Regions from separate parts of the Homo sapiens genome. Here all the other regions are linked to region 1. Evidence: fine-mapped expression QTL. A gene starts in region 1. Each other region holds a variant in brackets. All regions are shown on one strand. Distances are from middle to middle. Region 1 holds the start of MEG3 (maternally expressed 3). Region 2 holds the start of LOC105370669 (a long non-coding RNA gene). Region 3 holds the start of LOC105370668 (a long non-coding RNA gene).

Evidence for each region.
Region 2: its variant is fine-mapped to the expression of MEG3 in blood mononuclear cells (TOPMed, PIP 0.92).
Region 3: its variant is fine-mapped to the expression of MEG3 in whole blood (INTERVAL, PIP 0.90).

The regions. Positions count from the first base shown.
Region 1 is chr14:100,819,925-100,830,659 of GRCh38, forward strand. MEG3 (maternally expressed 3) reads left to right here and starts at 6,194. Exons shown (of 10, transcript NR_190993.1): 1 at 6,194-6,293; 2 at 8,784-8,892; 3 at 9,110-9,825. RefSeq lists enhancers at 3,794-4,494, 10,729-10,735.
Region 2 is chr14:100,704,661-100,715,395 of GRCh38, forward strand. It overlaps LOC105370669 (a long non-coding RNA gene), which reads left to right and starts at 4,407. Exons shown (of 2, transcript XR_944211.1): 1 at 4,407-4,477; 2 at 4,894-5,091. RefSeq lists enhancers at 9,144-9,655, 9,656-10,167. The variant G/C (reference allele first, on the strand shown) is at 5,338.
Region 3 is chr14:100,678,544-100,689,278 of GRCh38, forward strand. LOC105370668 (a long non-coding RNA gene) reads left to right here and starts at 8,391. Exons shown (of 3, transcript XR_001750887.2): 1 at 8,391-8,814; 2 at 9,096-9,197; 3 at 9,288-9,373. RefSeq lists enhancers at 793-1,386, 1,981-2,574, 10,395-10,735. The variant C/G (reference allele first, on the strand shown) is at 6,132.

The DNA.
Region 1 (10,735 bases):
TGATTCTCATCTCCTTTCAGCGTCAGACAGCGGTGGCAGGCAGCGGTGGCAGGCAGCGGTGGCAGGCAGCGGTAGTAGACTGATGCGGTAGGCAGTGGTGGCAGGCAGCGGTGATAGGCAGCGGTGGCATTGGTGGCAGGCAGTGGTAGGCAGCAGTGGTGGCAGCAGTGGAGGGCAGCAGTGGCAGGCAGCGGTGGCAGGCAGCGGTGGCAGCAGTGGTGGCAGGCAGCGGTGATAGGCAGCGGTGGCAGTGGTGGCAGGCAGTGGTAGGCAGCGGTGGCAGGCAGCAGTGGAGGGCAGCGGTGGTAGGCAGTGGTGCCAGGCAGCGGTGGAAGGCAGCAGTGGTAGGCAGTGGTGGTAGGCAGCGGTGCCAGGCAGCAGTGGTAGGCAGCGGTGGCAGGCAGTGGTGGTAGGCAGCAGTGGCAGTGGTGGCAGCAGTGGCAGTGGTGGCAGCAGTGGTGGTAGGCAGTGGTGGTAGGCAGCGGTGGCAGGCAGCGGTGGCAGTGGTGGTAGACTGCCGTGGTAGGTGGAACTCATCATCCTATCTCCCAGGGATTGTCACTTTCCCCCGAGCCCTCATGAGCTTCTGAGCAGCTCTACGAAGCAAGAGTCACATGGATTTGGGCTTTTTGAAGAAAGTTCAAGGAGATTCCTACCTTTGCTGGTACCCTCCTCTGGGCGTGGGCTGCGACATGGACATCAGCAAACTTAAGCTCAACGAGGGAAGATTGTGTGCCCTCTGGAACCTCTGACCGCTGCCTCTATGTGCACGGGCCCCTAATCACAGTGCGTCTCCTACGCACCCTTGGCTCCCCCAGGAGCTGGTGGCTTCTGGGTTAGCTCTGAGACAGAGGTATCACCAGGCTTGGCTCAGGGAGGCCAACTGTGTGCTCTGGAACCATCCAGACCCTCAATGTTTAAATTGAAAGTGTGCCCAGCCTCGGCCCCCTTCCCTTTGACATTAAGACTTAAGAAGTTTCTAGTCCTTGTTGAAACCTAGTACAAATGCCTCCTCTAGGAGCCTCTTGGGTGGGGTGGGAGTTTTTCAACTGTCAGCAATCTTTTAGTTAAAAAAAAAGAAAAAAAGAGCAAACTTTCCAGTCCTGTTCTACCTGGAACACAGTTTCTCCTCTGGGGCCCCTCCCCAGGCCTCTGCAGTTCTCTGTCAACACAGCAAAAGCCACCCCCTCCCTAGCCGCAGGCAGTTGAATGGAGCAGTTCTTTGCTCCACCGAAGGAAATATTTCCATGGAGTGGGGCCAAGAAAACCCCTTGCTTGAATCTGGGGCTGGCCCACACCCAAAGCCAGGGGGCCCCGGGTGGGGGTGGGGTGGGCAATGTGGCTGTCTTTTCCTAGTGTCAGGATGTGACTTCTAAAATCCAACCCATGGCAGTGGTCTGCTTCACCAAGACCCCGTTCTTGGCCTGCTTGGTCTTCTCGGAAATGGATTTCTCTAGGTCCCCCCAGTAGGAATGAAATCATTGAAGTGCACTTTTTTTGCTTTTACCAGCTTGGAATTTGTTCACCTCTGTGGCAGGTTCAGGAGAGTCCTTCCAAAGATTGGGCGCAGCTAGGTGACTGCCACTGGCACCCACCTCTGTGCCCACCCCACAGCTATCACTCATGCATGAATGCCTCTGTCCAGGAATGGGGACTTATGCTATGCAGGACATGAATCCTGGGTCTCTTGATTTTTATTTACTTAACAGGAAAAGATTTTTAAATTGAGGTCAATAAAGAAGAGGCTAAAATGGTCACTTTTCTTGTACCGTTACATTAAAACGAATTTTTTTTTTTAACAGTTGGGGTCTTATTATGTCACCCAGGCTGGCCTTGAACTCCTAGGCTCAAGTGATCCTCCCCGCTTCAGCCTTCTGAGTAGCTACGACTATAGGCATGTGCCACTGTGCCTGGCTTTGGACTGCAGCATTAAAACACACAAACACACACACACTATAAGAGGAATACATGCCAGTAAAGGAATTCATAAAAGTAGAAAGGAAGAAGAAAATTCACTCAGAATCTATCCATCCAGCACAACTAATGGTACCATTTGGGGGCATTACCCTCCAGCTCTTTTTCATTGGCACTAGTTATTATAAAAAGTAGTCCCAAAGAGCAATGTCCCCTGCCTGTCCACATACCACGCTCCTCCAGAGGCTGATGAGGAAAAGGGCAACTCTGTGGTTGAACATTTACTCTTGGGTTACTGTTAGTCAACGGGGAATGGCTGGAAGTCTAGCTAACTCAAATATACAGATGCGCTGCCTTGAAACCCAGCAGTCTACCTGGAATTAAACTTCATCCTTGGCCGTCTGTGAAAGGCGTTGAACTTTATTTGTCTTTTAGTATCTACAATTTGGCAAACTCTTCCATGCAAGGTTGGGGCTGTGCCCAGAACTCTGGTTTTAAGGGGAGCAGAGTGTTCCCGGCACTGGGAGCTGGGGTCGGTGTGTTTTCTAGAAGAGCTGCTGTCAATTTCAAGATCCCAGAAGATAGGCCTGGTGTGTTTGATCATTTCCTCCAAATCCTTGACTACTTGATGTCAAGCCTCACCTCTTATGGGAGGCAGACATTGTATTTGACAATGACAGGCTTCCCCTTGTCCCACGAGAAGGAAAAACTCAGCCCCATGGAAGACCGCCCATGCGCTCAACTGCTTCTCTGACTTGAGCTGAGGTCTATGGCAGAATGGGAGGGGGTTCAGTGATGTTCAGAGGCTTGAAGGGCCAGAGGCTGGCACTAGAGCTGGGGATTGGGACTGCAGTGGCAGCTTATATAGGAAGAAGTCAAAGCAGCCTCCCTATCCCGGCAGCCCCCTGGGGGGAGTGCAGAAGAGGAACTCAAGAGATCTCTGGTGCATGCTAAATTTCAAGGGTACGGGGAAAACTGGGACGTCGGCTTAGAGGGGTAGGCACTTGGGGTTTGCTGTTTGTAAAAGTTCAGAGTATGCTTTTTGAGAAGAGAGTATATTTGCCCATGCCTGGGAGATGGGTATAGGAGGACCTTGTCTTCATTTCCTGGCTGGCTCTTAGGAGGTTTGTCCCCTTGCCCATAAGTATGTACATGTGGATAGGAGGCTGCTCACATGGCTTTTGAGGGTTCTCAAGTATGAATTAAAAAAAGAAGAAAAATGTGTGCTTTGAGTTAGATCTGAGAAAAAAAAAAAAAAGGCAGCAAGCTAAGCCATGCGTCTGGGACACTGGCTCGCCTCCAGGATTTCAGGAGAGTTGGGTTTCAGCATGCACAGAGAGAAAGTGCTCCATTTCTCAAACCTGGATTTCCTTGTCTGTTTTCCCCTATAGATACAAATCTGAGCCCTTGAATGGCCTTTTTGAGGGAGGAAGGCATGTATAGCATTGCTCAGATTGAGAAATAGTTCAGATCCAAATATTACTATAGGTTTGGCTCCTTCAAGAATTTCTTCCATTGCTTTGGACCAATAAATATTTAAAAAGTTAGGTTCTGAGCTCCAGAAAAGCCAACAAAAACATTTAAACATATGGATTTTTTTTTTAAATTGTGGTTAAACCATGTTCAGTGGAGATTAGTTTGCAGCAGTCTTTTCTTTCTCTCTTTGCCTCGCATTCCTGCTCCCCCCCCTCATCATTTTCTTTCTTTCTTTTAGGAAGCCAGAAGGGTAAACATGTTGCCATGGAGTTCTGTTTAAAATAAAATACAATGGAAAGAAAAGCAGCATGATGAAGTAACCACATGGACTGCAGGATACACCTGATACTAATTACTGTCATGCAGAATGTTCTGGAAGACATTTGACTCGCCTGATGTATACATTCAAATCAAGCAAAGTAGGACTGGAAGGCTCCTTAGGGACCATCTTGTCCAAGTCTTTCCTTTTTCCAGATGAGGAAGTAGGGGCCCACAGAGAGGGAGGGCCTGGACCTCAGCCTCCCAGCGCGGAGGGAGCAGAGCCGGGATTCAAACCCGTGGTGCTTTGTAGGAAACCCGTAATTTCCACGGTCTTTTTCCTTGGGCTGTCAGTAAGGCCCTGAAATAGGAGAGTGGGGTTTACTGTGAACCTCGAAGGAGCAGGCTCAAGAGCCAGGGGGCCCAGAATAGGGCAGAGGCTGGCTTCTCACTGGGAGGCTCAACTTCCCGCAGGGGCGCCAGGCCCTGACAGGAGAGACTGGACATTAGGTGTCTGGAAGTTTCTCCTTCTAGGGGCTCCAGGAGCATCCCACCTGAGGCCTGGGGCTCCCACCGGAACGTCAACTCATGCCCTTGTGGGGCTGCAGGGCTGACGCGGGCTGGCACTGTGTCTACGACAGCCTCCCGGGCCCCCGGGTGCGTGGCTGCGGATGCTCTCTGGCGGCCACCACAGTTCCCACGCGCGGCGGGTGAATGCGAGCCCCTTGTCAATGCGTGCCCCTCGCCTCTGCCCCCGAGAGGCTAGCAACCGGGCCTGCCGGCGTCTGATTGGCCGTGGGGGCCTGACGACAGGGGCTCCTGGTTGCTGATTGGCCCCGGCCAGCTCTGGCTGTTTCCTAGCTATTAATACTGTGGCTAATAAACGTTCTCCTGTTGACGCGGGTGCTCGGAGCCATGATTTTTTGAAGCGTTCTTGACGTCTGTGGCTGGTGCGGGCGTTTCTGCTGTGCAAGGCCTGCTTCCGGGGCTCTAGTCCCTGGGGCTCCTGGCAAGCTCCACAGGCTGTAAAGGGGGTGTTTTCTTTCTCCTTCGTGTTACCTGACATATTAAAGCAGCGCCCCATGAGGACCCCAACGTCCCACGTCTCTATCTCCCCAACAGTGCGCCTGTTTATGAAAAAACGAGCCCCCCACACGCCGTCCCAAGGCTCGGCGCCTCTAGTGACCTGACGGTCAATGTTCACCTCCCTAGTCATTAGCTGTGGACGTAGAAATAGCCTTTCTCCCTTCTTTTCAGCCCTGGAATCTCCCGTCTGCTTTACAGTCACCTTGTGGGATCGTTGGGCATGGGGGGCTCCCTCTGACGCCGCTTAAACCCCCCAAAGAAGTGCGGGGGAGCGATTCTGACTTGATGCCCTCGGCGGGGCCTCTCTGCTGTCCTCTTTGGGGCCCCTTGCTCATCCTCACCTGCTTTCTGTCACCGAGCACTCCATCCTTGTCCTCCTGGCTGCCACCCACCTGTCACCCTAAGATAGATCCTCGGTCCCTTTCAACAGCATTTTGACCTTTGCGAGAGGACATTTGATTGACGGCCCTGCACGCTCTGCCACTCAGAGCCGGGCAGAGCTGCCGAGGGCTCCCACCTGTTAGGGATTAACTCCCATGTGCCAGCTCCGGAGCCGAGGCCGCGGCAGGGCTCGGCGCAACATGTGTCGCTGCCTGTTTTTCGGGGCGCTGGGGCTCTTTCAAAGGGCATGTGTGTGGGGATCACCCCAACTTTGAGGGGTAGCTCAGGCATCTCCACATGGGACACAGTCCGCCCTCTAAAAGTACTTTCCTTAGAGGGCACGGCTCCTGTCTGGATTCTTATTACAACCCTGGTGTGTGTGGTGGGGGGTACCCCTGGTTAAGGTGGAGGAAGCGGACCCAGTGGAAGAGGAAGGGGCATAGCGGGTTCCGCGAACATGAGTTGTAAGCGGCAGAGCCCGGGACTCCACAGCCAGGGTTTTCTGACTCGGAGACGCGGAGCTCTGTCTCCCATGTCAAAGAGAACCAGTCAGAAACGCACGGGTGGGCTGGGAGGGGGTGACAGCCTCTGGCTTACATCTGGGAACCAGTTATGTCGCCCGGGCATTTTATTTTCCTGAACAATAAGAGAAAGCATGATTTTCTTTCGCTAAGCCCGCATCCTCCGATGGATGTTCCGAAACCGCCAGGTGTGGGATCTGCGCCCCGACAGCCCCACCTTGGCCATCGGCCGCCTGAGGACGGCCAGCCATCGGGGCGATTCCCCCCACACATTGTGCCTGAATTCACCCTGCCTGGCGAGCCGGGCTCACGCAGGGAAAAAGCACCCGCGACCACAGGGTGTTGGTCATGGCGGCCAGGGGCACTGCGGCAGAATTTTTTCCTCCCTTCTTTGCTGCAATCTGGGTGCGGCTAGAGCAATTTGTCATAGAATCTGGGGGGCTCATTTTTCCGGCCAATCACTTTTAGAGAAATGAGCGCATTGCAGCAGAATGCGCTGACGTCAGAGACCACCCCTTCTGCGCCTCCATATAAACCCCACCCAGCCAGCCCCTAGCGCAGACGGCGGAGAGCAGAGAGGGAGCGCGCCTTGGCTCGCTGGCCTTGGCGGCGGCTCCTCAGGAGAGCTGGGGCGCCCACGAGAGGATCCCTCACCCGGTGAGTGGTTGGCCATCCTTGCCGCAAAGGATGTGCAAAAGGAAGACGGCATCCGCTTCTGGGATGGGCTCTGTCCTCCTGGACATGCCGAGAGCCTGCCTGATCCTGGGTCCTGCTGCTGGAGGCGGCCACTTCGCCTGGTCCCCGAGCGTCCGCAACAAAATTTGTCAGAAAGAAAATCTTGAGGCACATTTCCCTGGGGGGAAGTCAGGGCTCCTCTCTGGAGGGTCCAGTCCTTAAGGGTGGGCTGGGTGGTAGGGACTTCAGTTCAGAGGAGCGGGAGGAATCAGATGGAACTCCTCTTGGATTCGGGTATACGGCAGTCACTGGGGGGCGAACCCCGGATTTCCTGTATTAGAAGCCGCCTCTAGAATCGCGTTAATAGTGGGAGATATGGCGGCGATGCCTTCTGCGTGCCCCATGAATTAGGGGGGGAAGCACCCGAATAGAAGGGTCTCCCGGGCATATTTGCCTCGCCAGCTGTTGGCCAGGTTTTTGGTGGATCGTGGGCGGGAGGAGTGGAGGTTCCTCTTCGCGAGGTTTTCCGAATCCAAATACACAGGTTTAGTGCAGTGTGGACCCCAGGCAAAATGTGGAGTAAAATTTCTACCCGATATCATCTGGTTCTGCCCTGATCAGCCACTTTCACAGTGGAGAGAGATGGCGCCCAAGTGCAAACCTGCCAGTAGCCCCCTAGGATCAGTCCTTGCCGAAGGGGGGTCGTGGGATTGGGGGCACTGGGAGAATAGATGCAGGGGGTGGGTTGGGGAGGAGAGAAGGCCGTGTCCTTGGGTCTGGGAAGAGGGAGGAGAGAAATGCAGAAAAGGGGGTGTGTTGCTGGGGTCTGGACGCTGGGAGCTGGGGATGGGGTGCCGCGGGGGTCTTCAGAGCGTTGCGTGGTGGTCGCTCGAAAATCCTGACATGTTGCAGTCTTGGACTTTTGGTCAAATCGCCTTTTGCCATTTCCTTTGTCAGAGTCAAGCCCCCCCAGGCCGCCCCCTCCCACCCTGGGCCGGCGGGCCTGGTGGGGGCGCAGGCGGGTGGCTACGTGGCAGGTTTCTGGAAGGTTTCCTGGCTGGCCGCGAGAGGGCGCTGGCGGCACTGCGGAATTTTGGGGGGCGGGGTGGGGAGGGGAGGTGGCCTTTGTTCTCCTGATGGAGGGGGTCGGGCGCGGGATCTACTGGAGGATCCTGGATTCGTTTACCCAAGAGGGAACAGTTTTGAGACCCCCCGGATTCACTGCGGAGTGGCCGCAGAGGCCGGGGTCGGCCTTTGCGCCGTGGCTTCGGGTGTTGTGGAGGCGCACAGAGGCACGTTAGTTGATTTCCAGTGGTTTTTGGTTTCGGGGGTCTTAGGAAGGTGTGGCTCATTTGAGCAGGATGGAGAGAGAGGCTGTGACAAGGTCAGTGAGGGGCCATCGTGCGGGGGCTAGAAATTGTTGTTGTGGCGAAGGAGGGAGGCACGACTTTGGAGGCGTGATGTTGATGCCTGGGGGCGAAGGCGGGGAGCGGCGTGGTGGCCCCCTTTGCGTTACTTTCCAGCGATGTCACAGGTTCTGTCTCTCGTTCCGAGACCACCCACATGCGTGACAGCGGTGCCTGGAGGACTGGGTCTTTCTGACTTTAGTGAACGTGTGTTTAATTGGATTGACGAAGGTGGGAGTCGGGATTTCTGCTTTTCCCTGTAGCAGGCGGAGCGGCGCTCCAGAGGGGCCTGGCGCAGGTCCGCTGGGTGGCCCACCTTCCTCTGGGGCTGGGGCCCGGTGGCTGGGGGCGCAGGAGGCGCCTGGTGCGGGCGGGAGGCGCTGCGCCGCAGCCACAGGTGGGCTCTGGCTGGTGGTGGCTGGAGAGGCGTCCAGGGGGCGTAGCGACCTGGCGCGGTGGCCTGGGGTGGGCTGTGGAGCCCTTCCTAGCCTGAGACCTGTTGGGCACCCCCTGTCCATCCAGGCCCGCCGGGCGCGGGCCGGGGCGCCGCAGGTGGCTGCTGCACTCCTGGGTTACGGGTGCGGGCCGCGCGCCCCCTAGCGGTGTGTGCCAGCCCCGCTACCTTGGGTTTTGAGTTGCGCACACGCACACAGCTAACACTTGTGACCTGTCAGTCAAATCATCCTTACCCCCTCCCACTCCTCTCCTCCACCTCCCATTTCTCCTCTCCCTCCACCCTTTCTCATTTCCTCGTCCCTCCTCCCCCTCCTATTTTTCTTCTCCCTCCTCCCTCTTTCCTCTTCCCTCCTCCCTCTTCCCCCCTCATTTTCCTCATCTCTCTTTTCCCCTCCCCTTCTCTCCTCCCCTCTCCCTGCCCCCCTCCTTCCTCCCTCCATACCCCTCCCTCTTCCCTCCCAGCCCCTCCCTACTGCCTTCCTCAGTCCTCCCCTTTGCCACTCCTCCCTGCCTTTCCCTCTGCCTGCCCCCTTTTGCTCTCTGCTGTTCCGGTGCTGGCCGTTAGAGGTCACGAAGATGGTTTCTAACCTGCCCCCCTCCCATGCCATAGGGTCTCTCCTCAGGGATGACATCATCCGTCCACCTCCTTGTCTTCAAGGACCACCTCCTCTCCATGCTGAGCTGCTGCCAAGGGGCCTGCTGCCCATCTACACCTCACGGTACTTCAACCCTCCTGCTATCATTTCATAACCAACGTGGCGGGCAGAATCTCCCAACCCCACCACCATCCTTGCACCACCCCCAGACCCACTAGCAATTAAAAGACAATTTTAAATTTTAACTAATCAGCTTTAATTGTAATTAATGAACTTAAACTGTAATTATGATCTAGGCTTGGGCTTTTAAGCAGGTTCTCTAACCTTTGATCAATTGCAGAGGGCACTAGGAGCACGGTTTCCTGGATCCCACCAACATACAAAGCAGCCACTCACTGACCCCCAGGACCAGGATGGCAAAGGATGAAGAGGACCGGAACTGACCAGCCAGCTGTCCCTCTTACCTAAAGACTTAAACCAATGCCCTAGTGAGGGGGCATTGGGCATTAAGCCCTGACCTTTGCTATGCTCATACTTTGACTCTATGAGTACTTTCCTATAAGTCTTTGCTTGTGTTCACCTGCTAGCAAACTGGAGTGTTTCCCTCCCCAAGGGGGTGTCAGTCTTTGTCGACTGACTCTGTCATCACCCTTATGATGTCCTGAATGGAAGGATCCCTTTGGGAAATTCTCAGGAGGGGGACCTGGGCCAAGGGCTTGGCCAGCATCCTGCTGGCAACTCCAAGGCCCTGGGTGGGCTTCTGGAATGAGCATGCTACTGAATCACCAAAGGCACGCCCGACCTCTCTGAAGATCTTCCTATCCTTTTCTGGGGGAATGGGGTCGATGAGAGCAACCTCCTAGGGTTGTTGTGAGAATTAAATGAGATAAAAGAGGCCTCAGGCAGGATCTGGCATAGAGGAGGTGATCAGCAAATGTTTGTTGAAAAGGTTTGACAGGTCAGTCCCTTCCCACCCCTCTTGCTTGTCTTACTTGTCTTATTTATTCTCCAACAGCACTCCAGGCAGCCCTTGTCCACGGGCTCTCCTTGCATCAGGTAGGGGCTTTGCAGAGACCATCGACGGGCTGACTTGAGTAAGAACACGAATTATGCATGTGGCCATTTCCAGAGCACTTTCTATGTGATATGAACATGTGATTTTTATGTAATATGTGTATGTAAACGAGGCAGCCTCATTTCCAGGTGAGGATGCATTTGGTAGTGTTGATTTTTGTAATTTAAAGAAGCTGAAAGGGAGAGAGGACCCGTGAGGACTGAACTCTCTGTCCCATGGGGTAGGGCTTACATTTACATTAAAGAAACAGAAACTTGCTGGGAGGTGTAAGTATTTGGTCACATTGCTGGCAACAGAAGGGGTTGGAGTTGGACCCAGGGTGCCACGCTAGCTGCCCTCACCCCTTCTTCCCCTCTGGCCCAGAGTTATACTAAGAGTCCTTTTATTTCAAACCAAATGTTTGACAATGGGACAGTCTGTTTGAAATCCCAGCTGCCTGGGGTGGTCTTGGGGGTCTGGGTGGCCCCAGTGCTGGTACCATGTGCTGGCTTCACCTTTTAATAACAGTGTGACCTTAAACAAGTCGCTTAACTACTCTAAGTTTCAGTTTCTTTCATGGTCTAAATGGAGATTAAAACACACACACACACACACACACACACACACACACACACACCCCCTCGTGTATCTACCCCACAGGGCGCTTTTGAAGACCAAATGCTGTAACTACTATGAAAGTGCTTTGTAAATTGCTGTGGAAAGTGTGAGCTACTCAAGCACCCGAGGCTGTCCCTCCTTGCTCACATGTCCAGCCCAATTCTCCCTTAGTGAGAACAGCACTCAGTAGGTGCTGTGTGTGTTTGTGTTCAATTAAGAAATTCCAGAATAAATAAAAATGAATTAATTCAACAAACATTTTCTGGGGCACCGACAATCTGCCCAGTGCACCAG
Region 2 (10,735 bases), 120 kb before region 1:
TGCGGCTCCTGTCCCATGTGGGTGCCCCCTCCAGTCACCCTCTTCTGATGGCATCTGGTGGGTATTGAGCCACCTGAGCTGGTCCAAGGGACAATGGGAGCAGGAGTGGCGAGCACATGTCCACCCTGGAGCCCAGATGTGAGACAGGTGGAGGGCAGGTGGTGCCAACTAGAGGCAGAGCCAGTCTTGGTCCAAGTGAGTGAATCCAACCCACGTGAGCACTGACCCGGCTGAGGAGCTAAAAATTCCAAAGTGGACTGGAGATGCAGAGGGCTGGCTGGGTGTGGTGATGGAGGTACTTGGTCTGGATGGATTTCAGGGGTCCGGGCCAATGTCCGTGGCAGGGCTTTCCTCACCACAGGGTGAAGCCACACGGTTGGGTCGAGTCTGTTTAAAAAGGCGAGGTGGGGACCTCAGGGAGCTGGAGGTACATAACAGTTTCCTGCCAGTCCCTGGCTCTCAGATGCCCACACAGTTCCTGGCACCTATACCAGGGTAGGGAAGGAGGAGGTTTTGAAATAGCATTCGCAGGGCTGATTGGGGTGTGGCTACCCTGGCCTTCTGGAATGCCCCCAGCTACTACAGAGTCTCTGGGAAACAGACTCAGTGACAGAATCTCTTTCTTCTTATACAAAATGGACCAGCTTGGACAACAAAGAGAGACCCCATCTCTACAAAAAACGAAAACCTTAGTGGGCGTGGTGGTGCTTGCCTGTGGTCCCAGCTCCTCCAGAGCCTGAGGCTTGGGGGTCACTCAAGCCCAGGAAGTTGAGGCTGCAGTGAGCCTTCGTCATGCCACTGCACTCCAGCCTAGGTGACAGAGCGAGACTGTTTTAAAACAAAGCCAAACCAAACAAAATGGGGACCAAGAGAGGACCTGGCACATGGCGGGCACCCAGTCCGAGCCGGATCCCTCCCTCCTTCCTGGGAAGTGAGGACAACCCACTGCTATGCCCGCTAATAGAGGGTTACGGGCATCGACTAGTGCAGAGGCTTTATTAGCGGTCAAGTGCTATTAATAAATAAATCCCTAAATCATTTTATAAGCTACAAGTGCTTGAAGAAAAATAAAGCGGGAATGGGGATAGGGATACAGGGATGGGCTGGCGGGAGGGGAGGGCAGTAGAAGACCTCGCTGAGAAGGTGAATTTGACCAAGACCTGAAGGAGGTGAAGGAGTGAGCCCCGGGCCACTGGAGAGGACTGAGCAGGCTGTGCACCGGGCTCGGGGCTGCAGCAAGGGGGCCAGAGGACTGAGCAGGCTGTGCACCGGGCTCGGGGCTGCAGCAAGGGGGCCAGAGGACTGAGCAGGCTGTGCACTGGGCTCGGGGCTGCAGCAAGGGGGCCAGAGGACTGAGCAGGCTGTACACCGGGCTCGGGGCTGCAGCAAGGGGGCCAGAGGACTGAGCAGGCTGTGCACCGGGCTCGGGCCAGCAGCAAGGGGGCTAGAGGACTGAGCAGGCTGTGCACCGGGCTCGGGGCTGCAGCAAGGGGGCCAGTGTGGCTACTAGGGAGGCACCAGAGAGTGAGCGACGAGAGAAGGGGCGTCAGGCAACAGCCAGGGGCTCGGGGGCAAGATAAGGAAGAGGGAGGCTCCATGGCAAAGGCCCCATGGTGAGGCGTGAGGTGGCCTGGCTTGGAAAGGCTTGCCCTGCACAGGAGAAGCAGGGCGGCCAGCTGCGAGATGGTCGCCACGATCCAGGCTAGAGCAGCTGTGGGCCTCGAGGGTGGTGGCATGGAGAGACAAAGTGGTGGGATTCCAAACACGTTTTGAAGATAAAATCAGCAAGTCCTGCGGGAGAAGGAGAGTGCTCCGGAGGCCTCCAGGGTTTCTGGCCTGAGCCACGGATGCACTGAGGGGGATGCTCTCCTCCTGGGCCTGTGAAGGTGATGGGGCTTGGGGGAGCAGGGTGTGGAGACACAGTGTCAGTAGGGACCGGGGCCCAGGTGACCTCCAGCTTTGGGGGCAACAGCAGCTCTCACGGCTGCAGTCGGCGTGTCCCCCCACCTCCAAACCACGAGGCACTGTCAGGCTTGGGGAAGGAGAGCTGCTTCCGGGCCAGAAGTAAAAGAGGGCAGGGTCGACTTTCGGGCACACAGAGGGCGGCTGGGTCCCGGGGAGCACTTAAGAAATGTTGGCGAATGAAGCTTGAGACAGTTTCCTGTCTCCATAGATGCGTGTGTGCACACACTGATACACACACGGACACACACTCTCTCACACCCTCACACACTGACACACACTCACACCCTCACACACACGCACTCTCACACCCTCACACACTCACTGACACACACACCGACACACCTACACTCTCACACCCTCACACACTCACTGACACACACACTGACACACCTACACTCTCACACCCTCACACACTGACACACACATTCACACCCTCACACACACAATGACACACACCCTCATACAGTCAGTCACTGTCACACATAACCTCAGACACAGTCACTGACACACACACTCACACCCTCATGTACACACTCGCACAATGACATACACTCACACTCATACACACAGTCACTGACACACGCACACTCTCATACACACACTGACACACTGACACACTGACACACACCCTCATACACACTCACTGACACACACACACAGACACTGACTCTTATACACTCACATCTGGATCATAAATATACCCATATTCATGAGTTTATTGGCAACTTGTGTTTTTCTCTTTATACTTGTCTCTAAGTTTTCTAAAATAAATACATATTACTTATGTTTAACAAACAAAATCCCTTTTTTCTGTTGTAAGATTTCTATTATCTTAGAAACAGAGATTCTACTTTTAAAAAACTGTTGAAGGGCCAGGTGCAGTGGCTCACGCCTGTAGTCCCAGCACTTTGGGAGGCCGAGGCGGGCGGATCACAAGGTCAGGAGATCGAGACCATCCTGGCTAACACAGTGAAACCCAGTCTCTACTAAAAATACAAAAAATTAGCCAGGCGTGGTGGTGGGCGCCTGTAGTCCTAGCTACTCAGGAGGCTGAGGCAGGAGGATGGTATGAACCCGGGAGGCGGAGCTTGCAGTGAGCCGAGATTGTGCCGCTGCACTCTAGCATGGGCGACACAGCGAGACGCCGTCTCAAAAAAAAACTGTTGAAAAGCGATTAACCTGAAATAAGGGAAAATCGTTAGACAACAATGACACCATGACAGACCTGCTTCTCCTAATCAAAAGTAAAATTTTAAATCCTAAATATCCCAAGTAAAAGATTAGCAGCCAGCTGTGGTACCAACCACTCCACGAACTGTTATGCAGCCATTTATACTTTGTCTCTTCTGAATTTAGATAAACATAGGGAATGTCTCCTGTATAAGAACCAACAAGAAACAAGATCACAGAGACAGCATGATCTCTGGCATGTAAAACAAAACTGAAGGGAAATGAACAGAAAAAAGACTGGAAGGAAATACCTCCATGTCAATGTTTCCTATGCAGAGGAACGATGGATGATTTATTATTTGGATTTTTCAGCCTCCCCTACATTTTCTTTAAATAACATCTATTGTTTTCAGAAAGAAAAACAACTCCATTTACCTTTCATTTTTAAAAATTCTACCCGGCCTTAAAATCCCACTTGAAAGACCAGCAGCTTGGCGGGGTGTCTTCACCCCCTGCTCAGGGGCACCCCTTAGCCAGCAGGCGTTGCTCACCGCCCTCAAGGGGCTTTGGGTTCAGATGGGCAGCCAGGGGAAGCGAATGCGATACCACCCTGGGCTTCCTCTGACGGCCATGGACCTGCTGGGCATAGACAGGAGGTGGGAGGGGCAGAGTTGGCCTCACCTGGCCCTCCAGGTGAGGGCTGGCGTCAGTTACCGGCCAAGGCCTCTGGGTGGCTCCTGCTGCCCTTGGCTGGGACACCACCCCTCTCCTGCCCCACACCCTCCCTGCTCCTTCTCAAATGTCCGCCTTCCTGGCAGCTGAGGGCCAGCGAGCAACTGGGCCAGGAGGGCCTGGAAACGCCTCTTCTCCTCATTCTACTCAAGATGGCTCTGGGGACAGAAAAGGACCCCTCTGTGCCCCAAATGTTGGGAACAAGGGCAGTGCTGGTAATAGGCTCACATTTGCACAAGGCGGGTCAAAGTTCCGGGCCGTGTGTCACCTGGGGGCTGGGCCAAAGGGGGCGCATCTTGCTGTGACATGGTGAAGGTGGGCAGGGTAGACCCGACGCTGAGGTAGGGGAGCGGGGCAGCGGGCTCCTCCTTCCTCACGTCCTATACTGTGCGGCGGCCCCTGACTTGGCCCCCTCTCCCTGGCTCTGTACTCCCAAACGTCACGTTGCGCCCCTCCCGTGCGCCCTCCAGCCAGGGTGGCCCGGCCTTGGCCGTTATGACGCCAGGGGAGCCGTTTGGCCGGCTCGGCCTCGGGTGATGGGAAGTTTCACTGCCCGGCCCTGTGGCCTGCGTTCTGTCTAACGCAGCTGTCTGTGCAGCTCCCGGGAGGGGTGAGAACAGCCAGCCACCTGGCTGAACTTGCTGGGAACCGACGTCAGGAGCAGGAGCTAGGCTGCAGTGGGCCTCACGGGGGCCTGGACGGGGAGAGCGGCTCCGTGGGCTCTGGGGCCTTCCCTCTCCACGCAATTGCGATCCCAGTGATGGGTGGGACAGAGATCCCCGTTGTCCCTGTCACCGCTCCCGCCTCCACTTGCCGGGCCTGAGGACAATTGAGGGGCTCTGCGAGCCCTGGGCGCCCCCCCAGCCCAACCCTCCTCCCTGGGGCCCCGCCGGCCCCCAGGCCTCCCCTGGCCTGGCCTTCCTTGCTGAGGGGGCGGGCCAGCGGGAGGAAGTCATCCGCTGTATTGTCGTCTTAATGCCTGTGCGATGAGGTGTGAAATTCTATGTTCCCAAAATTTGTTATCAGCCTCGCTCCTGTCCTCCGGAGCGGGCTGTGCGGAGGCAGCCGGGAGAACAGTCGGCTCCGAGGACAAGAGTGATGGGAGCGCCCCGGCCCCGCGGAATCCATCATTCCGGAGGGAACCTTCGGCAGGCTTCATTAGGCTCGAAACGATCATGAATATCCTCCCCTCACCTGTTCTCATTAATAATGGCTCCCCTCTTATCTTTTTTTTGCCACACGTATCATTCTTTTAAGAAACATACACAACCCAGGGAGAAAGCCCGGCGCCTGCCCGGGAGCCCAGCCGCAGCCTCTGCGTCCCGCCCCTCCTCCCCAACGCGCGCCGGCAGGGGGCGCGGCGGGCTCGCCACGGAGAGCGGGAGCTGGGGCCGCGCAGGGCGGGAGTCCTGCCCCTGGGTGGGGGGGACATGGGGCTGGGACTGCGGGCCGGGTAGACCACCAGGTGGG[G/C]AAAGTCAAGCCTTCTGGAACCTTCCAGCCCCGCGAAGCCTCCCCGATCCCCTCTGGCTGTGCTTTCCCCTGAGACAAATGCTGGCCTTCTCTAACCGTTTGCCTGTTTCGGTTCGTTTTATAATTTATTTTATTTTATTTTAATTAATTAATTTATTTATTTTTGAGATGGAGTCTCTCTCTTTCACCCAGGTTGGAGTGCAGTGGTGCAATCTTAACTCACTGCAACCTCCGCCTCCCGGGTTCAAGCGATTCTCCTGCCTCAATATCCCAAGTAGCTGGGATTACAGGTGCCGGCCACCATGTGTGGATAATTTTTGGGTTTTTAGTAGAGACGGGGTTTCCTCATGTTGGCCAGGCTGGTCTCAAACTCCTGACCTCAGGGGATCCACCTGCCTCGGCCTCCCAAAGTGCTGGGATTACATGCGTGAACCGCTGCGCCCCCGCCAGTTTCTTTTTATGTTAAAAGTGGTTTCAATTATAAAATAGATGGCCCTCTCTTTTGAAGTGCAAAGCAGGTAGTCCTCCCGTTGGGGTTCCCCAGCCACTCCCAAAGCCCAGCGCCAGTCAGTTTCTCCTGTGATCCCCGGAAGCGTCTAGGCATGTGCAAACAGATCAATAGGAAAGGGGATCTTGTATATATTCTTTTTCACTTTACATACATGAGTTCGTTTTACACACACTGTTCTGCAACTCCTTTTTGTTAACCTCACGATGTAGGAGATATTCCAAGCGTAATTTTCCCTGTTTTATACAAGAGCCTAGGGGAGTGAGGCTTTGGGGAGCTTCTCCTCCTGGCTTCTCCTCATGGCTTTCTTCCTCCTGCCCCTCCTCCACGTCCCCAGCCCCCCATTTCTGCCTTCCTTGCTGCTCCACTTGGCCTAGCCATGACCTCTGTGTGGTCGTCACTGTCTTGTGTTCTTGCTTCTGTCGTGGCCGCCAGAGTGACCGCACTGCAGCTTTTTAAAGCTCTGACCTTGTCTTTCGTCTTCTCAGAGCCTGTCTGAGGCTCCCCAAAGACATTGCCCAGCGGCCTGGCATTCAGGACCCCAGCTGGGCAGCCCTGCCGACCTTCGGCCTCCTCAGGGACAGCTGCTCCCCTCACTCTGCCGGGCCTTGGACTCGTCTCCCAGAATAGCCAGGCACACTGGCGCCCTAACCTTCCCTGGCTCAAGCTTGTCCTACTGCCGGGAAGGCCTCCCCCTCCCCTGCATTTGGCAAACTCATGTGTACCCTTCAAGGCCCATCCCCAAGGTCACCTCCACTGGGAAGCCTTCCAAGGGCTCTCAGGCCCTGCCTGGTTCGCCTTAGCACTCCTGCAGCTCGGCTGGAAGGAGAGGCCCCCTGGGACCTGCCTGGGCTCTGTCCGGCTCTGGGCAGCTGTGCTTGGACCTGGGGCTTTTGGTCAGATGTGCTGTCCCGTCCTTCCTCCTGTGCCTGCTAGCTTCCACCGGGCACTTACTAGGGCCTGGTGGACCTAGGAAGCTGGTCCTATATAATTCCCATGCTACAGGCACCACTCCGAAGCTCAGAGAGGCGTAGGCAGTGTGCCCTGGGCCCACAGGCCATCTGTCCGTCTGCTCTTCCACATTAGCCTCCTTTCACTAAATCCCAGCTTCCTCCAGCAGCAAGAAGCCTGCTCGCTCCCCAGGGGCAGTACTGAAGGAAGGCATGCCTGCCTGAAATCTGTCCTCAAGGTCCCAGGCCGGCTGGGGCCCCAGGGAGAAGTCTCGGGTTTGGTAATCGTGTTCCGGCCTTGAGCTGCCGCTCTTCCTGTGAGCGTGCCAAGGGGCCTCTGCCTTCCTGAGGAGAAAGAGGTGGCCTGGACCTCTCGGTACCCAGACGGCCCTGGAGGACAGGCTTGTGTTTTGACAAGTGACAGGGCTGAGGAAGCTCCTTGGGTAGAGGGAACAATAGGAACTGAGGCCTCGAGGCCTAGAGGGGAGTGGGAAATTGGGAAGTGATCAGCCCCAGAGGCAGGAGGGCTCTGAGACTGAGAGAGCACATGGAGAGGGGACGGAGGTCCTCACTGCAGGACGCTTGGCTTGGGCAGACAGGGAGTGGGCATATGTGACCCAGGTGTTAGAACTGGGTTGTGGGAGGGGAGCAGGCACCAGGATCCAGGCCGCCTTTAGGTTTGTGATAATCACCTCCAGAGCCAGAGGGGGAAACCGAGGCCTGGGCGGGAGGGAGGTGCAGTGATGTCCCCAGCAGTGGGCCGGAGCATCTGGGTGTCCCACAGGCCTGCTCCCCGCTGGCCCATGGGTTCCCGGTGGGCTGTCCCCAGACTTCGTCCCCTGCCTCAGGGCCACAGAGGCAATGTGCCGGTAGGCAACAGCATCTGGGCCCTCCAGGGCCCTCGTGTCACTTGTTCCGCAGTCGTGGTCTCCAGACTTGCTAATTAGTTGGTAACTACACACCCCGAAAAATGTGCCTGTCTCGATGACACGGTCCGCCCTCCAGCACTCCCTGTTGCCTCTTTCCCGGCAAAGCTGGGGGAAGAAAAAACCAGCGGCCTCCCTTTTCTGGAGGAAGAGTCACCTGCAGGTGTTTTTACAAAGTCGGGGCCAGAGACCATAGGAATAAATGCCATGATTCATGTTTGCAAACCCCTCCTGCCAGCTTCTGTCTTGACAAGCCAGGAGGGCTGGGGAGGAGGCAGGCAGAGGTGGAACCTGGGAATGCCGCCAAGGGCTTGCTTCGAGGCAGTGTTCCCTATCACAGGTAGAACCGTGCAGGCCTCAGGACAATTGGGTGGAGGGGGAGGGGCTCCGGATAGCCACAGGTGGTCCAACTGGCCACTCATCGCCTGGCCACCCCCAAGTAGGTGGTCTGGGTCCCCAGGGCCACCCAGCAGGGAGGCACCTCCACCCTTGAGAGAGGCTTGATGACCTTAAAGGCCAGCGGGAACGTTCTTAATTCTTGTAATAACCACGACTGGGACAAATGGTGATAACCGAGGTGTCGCTGCTCTGCTCCCAGGCTCTCCTTCCAGCCCCAGCTCACCACGGCCATGCCAGAGCTCTGAGGGGGTTCTTCTCAGGGCAAGAGTCCTTAACCCCATCTTACAAATGTGCTCACCGCAGTCGGGAGAAGTTCAAGACACCCCTTCAATCAAAGGCACCAGCCAGGTGGCGTGGGCAGGACTGGGTACTGGGTTTCCCACCGCTGACTTGGACTGAGGCTTGGCATGGGGGTCGGTGGGACAGGGAGTAGGTATTTTTAGGGTTGGGGGATCTCTGAGGTCACATGTAAAGGATAATCATCTCCTCTGGTTTCTGGCAAAACCCAACCCTGTCCAAGGAGGTCTGCCCACCTCCCCTCCTGTGTGTGTGTGTGTGTGTGTGTGTGTGTGTGTGTGGAGTCTCTCTGATATTTATTAAGCATCTACTGCTTGCCCTGTGGAATACTCTGCAGCTCCTCCCCCACAGACTCCTGCTGAGGAGAGGAGCACTCATCCTCGGGAGCACCCAGCCGCCTCCAGGGACCCTCCCAGGGCAGAGGCAGGAGGAACAGTGCAGGTCCAGGAGGGGCTGGATGGAGCCTGGGGGGTTGCGGAGAAGTGAGGGCAGAAGGCAGGCCTGGGGCATGATTTTCTCACGACCTTCTCCCGGATGAGGAGCCGATGGAGAGGTTCATGCTGGGGCTCCGAAGGGGGACCAAGATCATGGAGTAAAGACAGCACTGATGGGGAGACGGAGGGAGATGCAGAGGGAGAGCCTGCTGACCCCTCCCAGGGCCCCGGATGAATGGCCGCAGTGCCCTCGGTACAGGAGCAGGAGAGAGAGAAAGTGGAGCTGGGCATGTGGAAGCAGGAGAGAGAGGACGGAGCAAGGGACAGGTGGAGATCCAGGCTGAGCAGCTGTCCCTGGGGGTGGGCAGGAAAGGACCCTGGCCTGCTCCCAGGCACCACAAGGAGCACAGTGCTGCACATCTGTGAGGGGGACTTCCTGGAGGAGGTGGCAGGGTCTGGGATGGGGCCAGGCTCCGGGGAGGTGCGTGTGGGGTCCCTGCTGCAGCTCCTCCATGCTGCATCATGGATTCCCTCGTTTCCAGGTCTGGATGCGTTGCTGCGCTTGGCTTGCAGCGTGGAGCCTGCTAGTGACCCCCGGGGGAAGGGCCCTCCCTCGGGATGGAGCCGGCTTCCCTCTGCAACCACAGAGTGGTGTTTTAATTAGTCAAGTCTTCAAATCATTGTTTACTGCTCTCCACTCATGAAGGGTTTATTAAAAGCTGGGCCAAGTTAAAAATACTGGCAACAGGGACATGCAGGCCATCGGAGCCGCCGAAACAGGCGCCCTGAACCACGAGGAAGCCGTGGTGGCTCCTCCCCAGGGAATCCCTGCCCACGTCCTGTCGGTGGCCCAGCTGGCAGACAACCCGTCAGCCATGTGGAGGGAGACAGGGTGGCCCCTTGCAGCTGTGCCAGCACTGCTCAGCCTGTGCCGAGCACCAGCGCGTGACCAGGTCTCACACCCCTGGGTATTGAAAAGGCCTGGCAGGGTGGAGGTGGGGCCCCTCCTCACTCCACTCCACCCCTCCAGGAGCTTCCAGTCCCTGGGAAGCGTGTGTGGTTAGCCACACCCAATCACCCAGCCACCAGCCTCAGAAGCCCTTGGGGCCTGACAGCAGCAAGGATCGTGGTGGACGGCTCTGCCTGGCAGGGGTGTTCAGGGAAGCCCTCCAGGAGGAGGTGGCACTCGGCATGGGGTGGGCTCGCCATTGGTGGACAGGGGAGATGGCATTTCAGGTGAGTCACAGAAAGGTCGCCTAGGCCTTGGAGGCAGGGAGGTGCCGTCCTTGTCCTTCATGCTACCGTTGTGAGGAGGGTGGTGGAGTCGGGGAGCCCTGTGGGAGGAGCCTTCGGTACCCTGCCTGGAAATGCGCCCTGCAGACCTGCTGTGCCCGGATCTCCAAGAAGACTCTAGAGTCAACAGGTCCATAGGGAAGGGTGGGCCACAGAGCCCACAGCCACCAGCTGCCACTGCCTTTCTCAGAAGGAGCCAGGGGGAGGGCTGCTGTGACTCTTGTGGGGGCCCTCAATGTTTGAACAGTGGCAAAAACTGAACTGCGACAAGCATTAGGGCTTCCAAAGATCAGCTATCATGCACAGCTCTGGGTAAGAGTCCTTTGCTGGGCCTCAGTTTACCCATATGTACAACAATGAGAGAGACAGCTTTCCTACAGCACCACTTCCATCCATCCATCATATACTGACTCAACAAACACTCCCTGGACCCTTACTGCATGGCTGGGGCACAGAGGGGAACCCGACATAAGCTGGGGCCTTCGGAGTCTTCCTTCCACCCTGCACAGCGCAGAGTGTCTCCCTGGCCACTAAGGGCAGAGCCTGATGAATTTGGGGTTCTGAGGAGTAAATAAAATCAATGTGAAATCA
Region 3 (10,735 bases), 140 kb before region 1:
CATGCCGAGGGACCCAGGGGTGGCTTGAAGGGTGCTGGGAGAGCTCGGGCTCCTCGGGAAGGGGGGTGGGTAGAGGGAGCATGGACAGTGGGCCCTGTGCCAGCAAAGCACAGCATCTGGAGGAGGGTGGAGGCAGGAATGCTGTGGGGAGGTGGCCGGCAAGGTCTTAAGAGCCACGCTATGTTGGTGACGCTGGGTCTGGTGAGCTGCTGGGCTGGAGCAGGAAAGCCAGGAGGGATCTGAGGCCTGGACAGGGGGCAAGAAGTCCCCTCCCCTGCATTCTCAGCCTGGAGCCCAAAGATGTGGCATTCAGAGGCACCTGTTTGGACCATCAAAGCATCTGTGAGGTCTACCAGGCACTTCCATGGCTGGGAAACATCAGTGGCCCCTTCCCCAAGAGGAACACTACAGGCTTCATGAACCACGGGGCCGAAGGGCCCAACCACTCCCTTTAGCCCCTCAGGGTAAGCCCAGCCAGGCTGCTGGGGCATCCACAAGGTCCCAGATGCCACCCAGAGACTTGCTTACCTCCGGGACTAGAGAGCTCACTACCTCATTGAACGTGCATTCCTTTGTGGAGGAGGTCTCATAGCTAGGAAAGGGCTTTCTAGTACTGCTCCGGGGCCACAGCGCATCTGGAGGTGGCAGTCATGACCTTCTGGGCCTCTTTCCTCCAAACCAAGTCTCAGGGCTTCTCCTATCTGTTCCTTGCAAGACCCACCGCAGTGCCCTCTCCTGAACAGGCATCAGTTGTCATTTTCTCCCAGAACTGAGTGTTAGTGCCTAGGTACAGTCTGCAGCCGACTCTCACCTCCCCAGCTATGAATACCATGCTCCTGTTAATTAAGCCCTAGGCGATCTGTGTTTTTTTTTGTTGTTTTTTTTTCTGATTGATCCATCACCCCATTGAGTCTTGCAGGGTGGTGTTGGTCCTTCTGGTGGTAATTGTGAATGAAGCAGGGGGACGACACATCCAGCTTGGGGAAACTGAGGCCCAGAGGGACAAGGCCTGGATCAAAGTTACACAGTTCATGGATGGCAGGGCTCAGGGAAGAGCCCTCCTGACCTCTGCCAGCAGCCTGCCCAGCCAGCACACGGTTCCTCCATCTAGGCCGAAAGATGGGCCTATGTCCATTCTCCCTCCTCCCTCCACCCTTCCCGAGGCCCTCTCAACCCTCAGCCAAGCCAGGGAAGGTAGAACGTGAGCGCCCCGTGGGTCCTCAGATGGTCTTGATTACCGACAGAAGGAGAAAGGCCTTTGCCCTGTGTCCTGCTAACTGTTCCAGGGAATCCAGTGCATCCAGAGGCCTGGGGGCCAAGGTCTCACACAGCTGACCGCGTCCAGCACGTTCTGCAGACTCCGGGTGTTTCCAGAGATCGCTGGGCCTGCACATTCCTTCCTGCTGAGGGAACTCCCCAGCAAGGCAGAGGAGGCGGCCAGCTCCAGGAGGGCCTTGTGGTGGGAAAGGAAAGAGCTTGTGTCCACAGGCGGCTAATGTGCACCAGGTGCTGACGAGTGTCTCTCTTGTGACATGAGAAAGTGGGCGCCACACTCTTCTTCTCTTGCAGAGGAGAATGTGACTTAGAGAGGAGATGATAATGGTGGTCCCCTTCCAGGCTGTTGACAACTGACTTGGTTCATGTGAGAGCTCAGCTCAGAGCCTGGGACCAGTGGGTGTTTACCAGGAATTCTACTGCTGTTGTCCCAAGCCACATGGCTAGGTGGCTGCAGACCAGGGATTTGAACCCGTGTCCAGGAGACAACCCAGGGTGGCTCCTTTGTGGTAAAGGCCACGCTGTTTGGGGATGGTCCTCCCTTCCTGCACTGCCACCAGCCTGATCTCCAACCCAGAGGCTCCCAAGTGGTCACAACCCTGGTTCGAGTGTCCTGAGGACCGGTGGGTGCGAGGCGACAGCCCCTCCCTCCAGTACCGGCTGAGAACGCCTGGCTGTGGGAAGCCGAGGATGACCACCCCTGAACTGGGGTCCCCTTCCCTCCGCCTCCCCCCATTGTCACAGGCCACGTGGGTGTCCTGCGGGCAGGGTTCTGCCACCACCACAGAGGGCTGGCCGGCAGCCCGCAAGTTTCCACCAACTAATAAGTTTTACAAACCTCCAGCCTCATAAAAAAGCTCACAGTGGCCTGAACAACCATGGCCAAGAGTCTTGTGGGAAAGCGGATGGCCTTGAGGCCAGGCAAAGGCGATCTCGGCCAGAGGCCACTTCCTGCCTCTACTCAGACCTTTCCTAAGGCTTCAGACGTGACCATGCCCCTGTGGCCCCCTGGATAAAGACTATGCTCCTCCCTCGAGGGACCGGAAGAGGCCCTCAGCCCCAGCTACCGTGCCCCAGCAGCCCCACGCCCTCCTGCTGCCAGTGAGCTGTCTCTGCACTCCTGCTGCTGAGCGCAGGCCTTTGCGTGGGCCTGAATGCCCTTCCTGTCCCACCATTAGGGACACAGAGATAACTGACACTTCTGTATCCCAGAGGGCCCCCGGGGGACACGGCATGTGATTGGACAGTGATATCACAGGCTCTGACTGGGACCTGAGAGGGAGCAACACGGAGTCCGCATCTGGCTTCTCGTCCGAACGTGGGCCAGGGTAGCAAGGGGGCACCCCGGCTGCAGGAAACAGCAGGCTCCAGGCAGAAGGGTCCATGATGCAAACACGTCCCTGAGCAGCCCGCTGGGGACCGGAGGGGCTGATGTGGAGAGTGCCTGGAGCAGAAGCGAGGGGGCATGGGTGGGGCAGTGGGCTGAAGGAGTGCGTGGGTTGTGGCAGAATTTTCAAGAAGGTGGGAGATGGGGGACACACACGTGGAGGCTGATGCTTTCAGGAGAGAGGGACGTTGGGTTTGTGATTCTGGGGTGGGCCTCTGGGTATGAGCTGGGATTTGGGCACGTAAGAGCCTTGGGCACATGGGGTCTTCAGTGGTAGGAGGATGAGGCCACCAGTAGCATGGCAGGAGGGGAGGGCATGGAGCCAGGACTGGCCCTCAGAGTGGCAGCTTTAGGAGGCAAGGGCAAGAGCCAGGCCTTTGGAGAAAGTCTGGGAAGGGGTCTTCAAAGAGGAGGGGGACTCGGGTCCCAAAGCCACAGGAAGAGGTGTTTCAGCAGGAGGGACCAGTCGGCTGCCTGGGGTGGCCACGACAGGAGCCGGGAGGGGTGTCATCGGCCTGGTAACCTGGGTCCTTGGCATCCTTGGGAGTGGGGGTAGAAGCTGGCGGGGGGCAGTGGCACTGGGTGTGAGCAGCTATGAGAAGATGGGGAGGACAGGCTGAGCTGAGGGGAGGGTGGGCGGGGATCTGCCTCCTGCCCCGTAACCCTGATGCTCACAGGGGCACTCCAAGGAGAGAAGGTTCACTCCGTCCCCTGCCAGGGATTGTCTGTGGGGGGCTCCGGGGGCTCTGCAGGACTTTGATGGACTCCTGGGGAGGCAGCTGTGGTTGTGGAGGGGACGCTGCTGCCCCCCGGAGCTGAGTTCATTCCCCATACCCTGCTCATCATGGTGCAAGCTGTCTGGGCCTCGGCTTGCTCATCTGCACTGTGAAAGCGCCAATGGGAACGTGCCGTGTGCTCCGGGTTGTGGAGAGGACTGGACGCCAAAGGTCCCCACAGGCAGGTTTTTCTGTCCCCGAAGTAGGTGGCCAGAGTCTCATAGCTTCTGATGGAGACTTAGCACTCAGTCTGGACGAGCCTTGGGGAGTTGAAGTATGGGCCTGCCCCTTGGCAGACTCAGAGCTGGCCCTTCTGTAAGTGTGCATTCAATCACATGAAAAGTGCCCAGGTCTGAGGAATCATCTGTTACCCAAGTCTCTTGGCAGCTGTCTCTGCTCAACGTGCTGGAGGGGCTGGGAACCACAGAGGGGCTGGCAGGGGCGGGCCAGCCTCCAGTAGGACCACGGCTTTGGTTTTCCATCTGTAAGTGGGGCTGTGGCTACGTGAAAGTGAGCCTGGAGGCCCGCGCCCCCTGAATCCTGATGAAAGGGTCTTCTGCTGCCTGACTATGGGAAGGAGGGGCCATATGGACCTGGAGCATGTTGACGCTGCCAGGGTCTTCCAACTGGACACAGAGGCCAGTCTCTCCCTTTGCAAGGGTCTTCCTTCAGCTGGCCTCAAAGAGAGGCTTCCAGGACCAGAGGGAAGGAACAGGGAGAGCCAGAGCCCACCTCCTCCTAACTCTGCCCACATTGCCCATGGCAGCTCCGTTTCTCCTCTGGAAGCCTCTCCCAAGGGTTGAAGAGAAGCTGGACCCTCCCAACTCCACACACACTCTGAAGATATGCTTCCTATCTGTGCACACATGATCATAGCAGCATCACACACAGTAGCCAGAAGGTGGACACAGCTGAGTGGCCACTGAAGGGTGGATGGAGAAACAAAATGTGGTCAGTCCACACGATGGAATACTATTCAGCCCTGAAAAGGAAGGAAATGCTGGCCCAGGCTACAACATGGGTGAACTTGAGGACATTATGTTGGGTGAAATAAGCCTGTCACAAAAAGTTAAATATGATTCCCTTTATGTGAAGGAGTCAAAATCATAGAGACAGAAAGTAGGATGGAGGCTGCCAGGGCTGGGGGACAGGGAATAGGGAGTTAGTGTTTAATCTTTTGGGGTTTCAGTTTTGCAGGACGAAAGTTGTTCTGGAGACAGACAGTGGTGATGATTGCACACCAGTGGAAATGTACTTAATACCACTGAAATGTACACTTAAAAATGGTGAAGATGGTAAAGATTCTTTTACTACAATTAAAAAATCAAGATTTAGGCTGGGTGCGGTGGTTCACGCCTGTAATCCCAGCACTTTGGGAGGCCGAGGCGGGCGGATCACCTGAGGTCGGGAGTTCGAGACCAGCCTGACCAACATGGTGAAACCCCACCCCTGCTAAAAATACAAAATTAGCCGGGCGTGGTGGTACATGCCTGTAATCCCAGCTACTCAGGAGGCTGAGGCAGAAGAATCGCTTGAACCCGGGAGGTGGAGGTTGCAGTGAGCCAAGATCGTGCCATTGCACTCCAACCTGGGCAACAAGAGTGAAACTCCATCTCAAGAAAAAAATAAAATCAAGATTTGTATTTCATTAAGAGTTCATTAAATCAGTATGGTTCACAATAACCGTCCTTTGCTGTCAAGCTATTACGAAAGATCTCATCAGAAGTCTGCATGTCACTCTTCTTCTCTTCCTTCCTTCCTCACCCTCACGCTTGTTGGTCAGAGCCCTCTCTTAAAGGAAGAAAGCCCAGGGCTCCTGGCCTCCAGCCCAGAGCTCCAGGGAAGGGGCCGGCCATGTCTGAGCTAGGGAAGAGGCTGCAGAAGATAAAGGTTCTGGGGACATGCTCCAAGTTAGAAAGCCAGGTAAGGCTCCCTGACGTCCGCCCAGCAGGACAAAAGCAGACAATTATGGGATGCACCAGAGTCGTGCAGCCCCTTTGGCCCCTGCAATATCAGACGCTTCAGAGACCTGACTGTCTTGCTGTTTGGCTGACGCCGGCCTTAGAAGAACAAGCAGGTCAGAGGATGGAATTAATTTCCTAAAATTGAATGTCATGTTGAAAAGTCATCTCAGGATTTCCTGCCAGAGGGAAGGAGAAATGGCCATTTGGTCTTTGCTCTCTCAATAGCCTGTTGTAGCCTGCCACTTACATCTTTAGTTTTGGGTTGAACCGCATGAAAGTGCCATGTGTTAGGGCAGGAATCATAGAAATAAGCACGTTTATGTAGCATAATTGAATAAAAATAACAGTGAAAAGGTGGTTCCAGAGATGAAGGGAAGAAACAAAACAGACCTCGGCTCTCTGTTTTCTGGGGAAGTACCGGTACTGAGATATCAGATCATTTTGCACGTAATGACACCCCAGTGCTGTGATGAAATTGTCACCAATGCATTAGAGGACTTGAAAATGATATAGCCTCTTTGGAAATGAATAGGCAAGCACGTAGGAAGAGTTATCAAAGGCCAGATGCCCCTTGTTAAGCAGTCCTCCTCCTCCTGGAGATATGCTTCTAAGAAAACCACCTCCAAAGAAGGGAAAAATCATTTTCCTGAAGGTGTTCCACGCGGTGTGAGTTTGACCCTGAAAATCGGAGGTGGCCTCTGCCCTGGGTAACACCAGGACAGCTAAACC[C/G]GTAATAGATGCCAGAGACGGGGCAACAGGAACCCCTCCATAGAGAAGGGAAAATCAGACCAGTATGGCGCCGAAGCCCCCTGGTGAAAATGCCACTCATGTTGACCCTGTCCCCAGAAGTTTCCTCTAGGGAATTTTACCTGGTTACTCTCACGGTAGCTAAAATCTGTCAGTTTCATCACTTGGAAGTGGAAGCTTCAGGGGTGAGACCTCTGTGTGTGTGTGTATTTGTGCATGCTTAAAAAACCTCCAACAGGCTGGGCGTGGTGGCTCACACCTGGAATCCCAGAACTTTGGGAGGCCGAGTCAGGATTGCTTGAGCCTGGGAGCTCAAGGTCAGTCTGGGCAACATAGTAAGAGACCATCACTAGCAAAAAAAAAAAAAAAAAAAAAAAAAAATTAGCTGGGCATGGTGGACCTGTAGTCCCAGCTACTCTGGAGGCTGAGGTGGGAGGATCAATTGAGCCCAGGAATTCAAGGTTTCAGTGAGCTATGATTGCACCACTGCACTCCAGCCTGTGTGGCAGAGAGAGACCCTGTTTGAAAAAAAAACAACAAACAAACTCAAAAACAATAAAACCCTCAAACACAGAGTCAGCTAATGAAACAAGACAGGGGAGCGGGCAGAGATCAAATCCGGCCGTGCCTCAGGCTGCCGCAACAGAACTGGGGGCGGCTGGGTGGGGCGTGGGGTCAGACGGGTGCTTCCCTACTTTTATCAGAATGGGCTTTAATGCTTAAGGCTCTCATCCTTTCTTTAAAGATAGAACAACAACAACAACAAGAAAGCTGGACCCAATCTGTGCTCAGACTTGCGGGGTTGGCTCACATTTCCTTCTCGGCCAGGTGTCCTCTGTTACTTTTTGCGCCCTCCCAGGACCTCGAGGGAACCAAACCCTGCTACCCCTCCACCTCAGCCCCCTCCACCTCAGCCCCCTCCACCGCAGCCCCCTCCACCACAGCCCCCTCCACCACAGCCCCCTCCACCTCAGCCCCCTCCACCTCAGTCCCCTCCACCGCAGCCCCCTCCACCGCAGCCCCCTCCACCTCAGCCCCCTCTCCACCACAGCCCCCTCTCCACCTCAGCCCCCTCCACCTCAGCCCCCTCCACCACAGCCCCCTCCACCTCAGCCCCCTCCACCTCAGCCCCCTCCACCTCAGCCCCCTCCACCTCAGCCTCCTCTCCACCTCAGCCCCCTCCACCGCAGCCCCCTCCACCGCAGCCCCCTCCACCTCAGCCCCCTCTCCACCTCAGCCCCCTCCACCTCAGCCCCCTCCACCTCAGCCCCCTCCACCTCAGCCCCCTCCACCTCAGCCCCCTCCACCTCAGCCTCCTCTCCACCTCAGCCCCCTCCACCGCAGCCCCCTCCACCGCAGCCCCCTCCACCTCAGCCCCCTCTCCACCTCAGCCCCCTCCACCGCAGCCCCCTCCACCTCAGCCCCCTCCACCTCAGCCCCCTCTCCACCTCAGCCCCCTCCACCTCAGCCCCTCCACCGCAGCCCCCTCCACCGCAGCCCCCTCCACCTCAGCCCCTCCACCGCAGCCCCCTCCACCGCAGCCCCCTCCACCTCAGCCCCCTCCACCACAGACCCCTCTCCACCTCAGCCCCCTCCACCTCAGCCCCCTCTCCACCTCAGCCCCCTCCACCTCAGCCCCTCCACCTCAGCCCCCTCCACCTCAGCCCCTCCACCTCAGCCCCCTCCACCTCAGCCCCCTCTCCACCACAGCCCCCTCTCCACCTCAGCCCCCTCCACCTCAGCCCCCTCCACCACAGCCCCCTCCACCTCAGCCCCCTCCACCTCAGCCCCCTCTCCACCTCAGCCCCCTCCACCTCAGCCCCCTCCACCTCAGCCCCTCCACCTCAGCCCCCTCCACCTCAGCCCCTCCACCTCAGCCCCCTCCACCTCAGCCTCCTCCACCTCAGCCCCCTCTCCACCACAGCCCCCTCTCCACCGCAGCCCCCCCTCCACCTCAGCCCCCTCCACCTCAGCCCCCTCCACCTCAGCCCCCTCCACCACAGCCCCCTCTCCACCGCAGCCCCCTCTCCACCGCAGCCCCCTCCACCTCAGCCCCCTCCACCTCAGCCTCCTCTCCACCTCAGCCTCTCCACCTCAGCCCCCTCCACCTCAGCCCCCTCTGCTGCCACAGTCCCTTCAGGGTCCCAGGCAGCTTCACCAGGAGTGGGTTGGGGGCTGGAGAGGCAGGAGGGGGAGGGGAAGAGGGGAATCCTCCCAGCAGGAAAGAGCCACTCAGCTGAAGGGGCCTGGGGGCTGCCCAGGGCTCACTCCCATCTGACCGCGCCCACCATCCCACTCTCTCTCCACCACCCTCCCCAGGGCTACAAACTCCTTGCACAGGGGAGGAGGGAGAGCCTCCAGAGGGAGCCCCTCTTCCTGGTCCCGGGATCCCAGGCCTCTTCCTCTCTCCCTGGTTGCCTAGGAGCGGTCATTGTTCTGAAGCCCCAGAGCAAAGGGGATCTCAAACAAATGCTCCATCCTGGGGCCTTCCTGCTGGATCTGACATTTGGGATGTTTTTAATTCCTGGAGAGACAGATTTGCCACAGGGGAGAAATGACCTCTCTGTGGGCCGCTCCTGGTTAGGCTGCCTAGGACGCAAGGGAGCGAGGCAGGAGAGACCATCTCTGTTTTACGGGGCTCTCCCGGTATCTTCAGAGAGTCCAGGTAAAGGCCTGCCTTGGTGCCAATGGCAGAAACCTTACTGGCCCAGACCAGGCCTGGGATTCCTGTGGTGCCCTCGGCTCGCTGCTAGCATGGTCTCAGAGGACTCATGTTGCCCCCATGATGGGAGCCCATGCAGAGTGGGTGGGTGGAGAGGCCAGGAGGCGGCAGGTGCAGATGCGTGTTTGAGGATTGCGTGCAGGGAGGGCGAGGCGGGGGCCCGTGGTCAGTTAGGATCTGTCCGTTGTCAAATGCAGGGAATGAAGTGGCTCTCTCTCTTTCAGGCCAGCGCCAGGCAGGTGGACAGTGTTTCCAGTGGCCTTCCTGTGGCCTCGACATGGTCAGCTCCCGGGCTGCCTCTGTGGCTAGCTCTGGGACCTTCCCAGGTGCCACATCCCTGGCTCCATGGGACCCTCTCCAGGCCTGGGGCCAGCAGGACCCCTGGAGATGTGCCCCTCTTTCTCTGGTTCACACAGCACCATCGACTTGGCCCCCAGCATGTCCTCAGCCACCGTCATCATCTCTCCATCCCTCAGCCACCGTCATCATCTCTCCATCCCTCAGCCACCGTCATCATCTCTCCACCCCTCAGCCACCGTCATCATCTCTCCATCCCTCAGCCACCGTCATCATCTCTCCATCCCTCAGCCAACGTCATCATCTCTCCATCCCTCAGCCACGATCCCAGTTGAGGTCACATCCTACCCACAGGGGCCCTACTGTGCCCCAGGTCCCTCGGCGACCAAGCTCCGGTCCTCATCTCACGTTCACTCTGAACCAAGGCAAGCTGTCTGGACTTCCACCCTGACCATGCCACTGCCCTGCTCACAGCTGGGGCCTGCCAGCCTCGGGATACAGTCCTTGGTCCCCCATTCCAGCCTCTCCACCAGGCCTGCCTCCCTCCAGTCATGTGGCAGCCGTGCATGTGGCCCCTCACTCCGGCCTTGGCATGCCTGTTCCCTGTGCTGGGATGGCCCCATCGTCCCCACCTCACCCTCTGCTTCCTGGCTACCTCCCTCCTCCTGAAGCTCCGCTTACTCCTCCTCTCCTCCAGGAAGCCCTCCCTCACTACCTCCCTCCCGGAACTTCTCCTCCACTTTGGGGCTAACTCTCCCTTCCTGGCCCCCCACCCCCAGCCCAGTCTAATTGGAGTGTGGCCGGAGCTTCAGTCAGGGCAGTGCAGGTTAGCAAATGGTTGTGGATGAGTGCCTGTGGGCATGTATGGGCTTCCAGTTGCCTCTGCAGGACTTGGGTGGGGGAGGAGGTACAGCCCCCCGGGTGCCCCCGTCCACTCCCCTTACCGTAACACCGACCTTCACCAGCCCTCCACTTCCTGGTGAAAAGCAGACCTGTGGCCTTGGGCGTCTGCAGCAAGGCCTCAGCTTGGGTCGCTTCTCTCCTGTCAGCGTGGGCCAGCGTGGGCTGCTGTGGCCCCGGCTGCTCCAGGTTGGGGGGATTAATTGGCCTGTTGCTGGAGGCAGGCAGAGGCTGGACGGCGGGTAGGCAGAGCAGGCGAGGGGGACCCAAGGCCTGAGCCCCTGTGTTTGCGGGGTGAGGGCAGTGTCCCTGGAGGGAGGGGGTGCTTCTGGCCCTAGGCGAGGGTCCCTGGTGAGCGCCTCTGCAGGGACCCATCCACAGGGCAGCCCACATTAGCATTCTCTGCACAAGAGTTTGCAAAGGAATGACTCACACTCTGGCTGACTAATTTGAAAGTAAGCTGCTTTTGCTGCAAGAAGGTTCAGTGAATCTTAAAAACTGCGTGATGGAGATTTTATTCCTTGTTCTAGACCTTTCCTTCTGCCAGGAAGGTGGCTCTGCCTCGGTTTACGCCTTTGGTTTGCTCACCTGGGGAAGTGGTTGGGGGATTGCGGGAAAACTGAGACTCCCAGGCTTGGCTTGCTTAGTGCTCACAGGTCGCATGCCC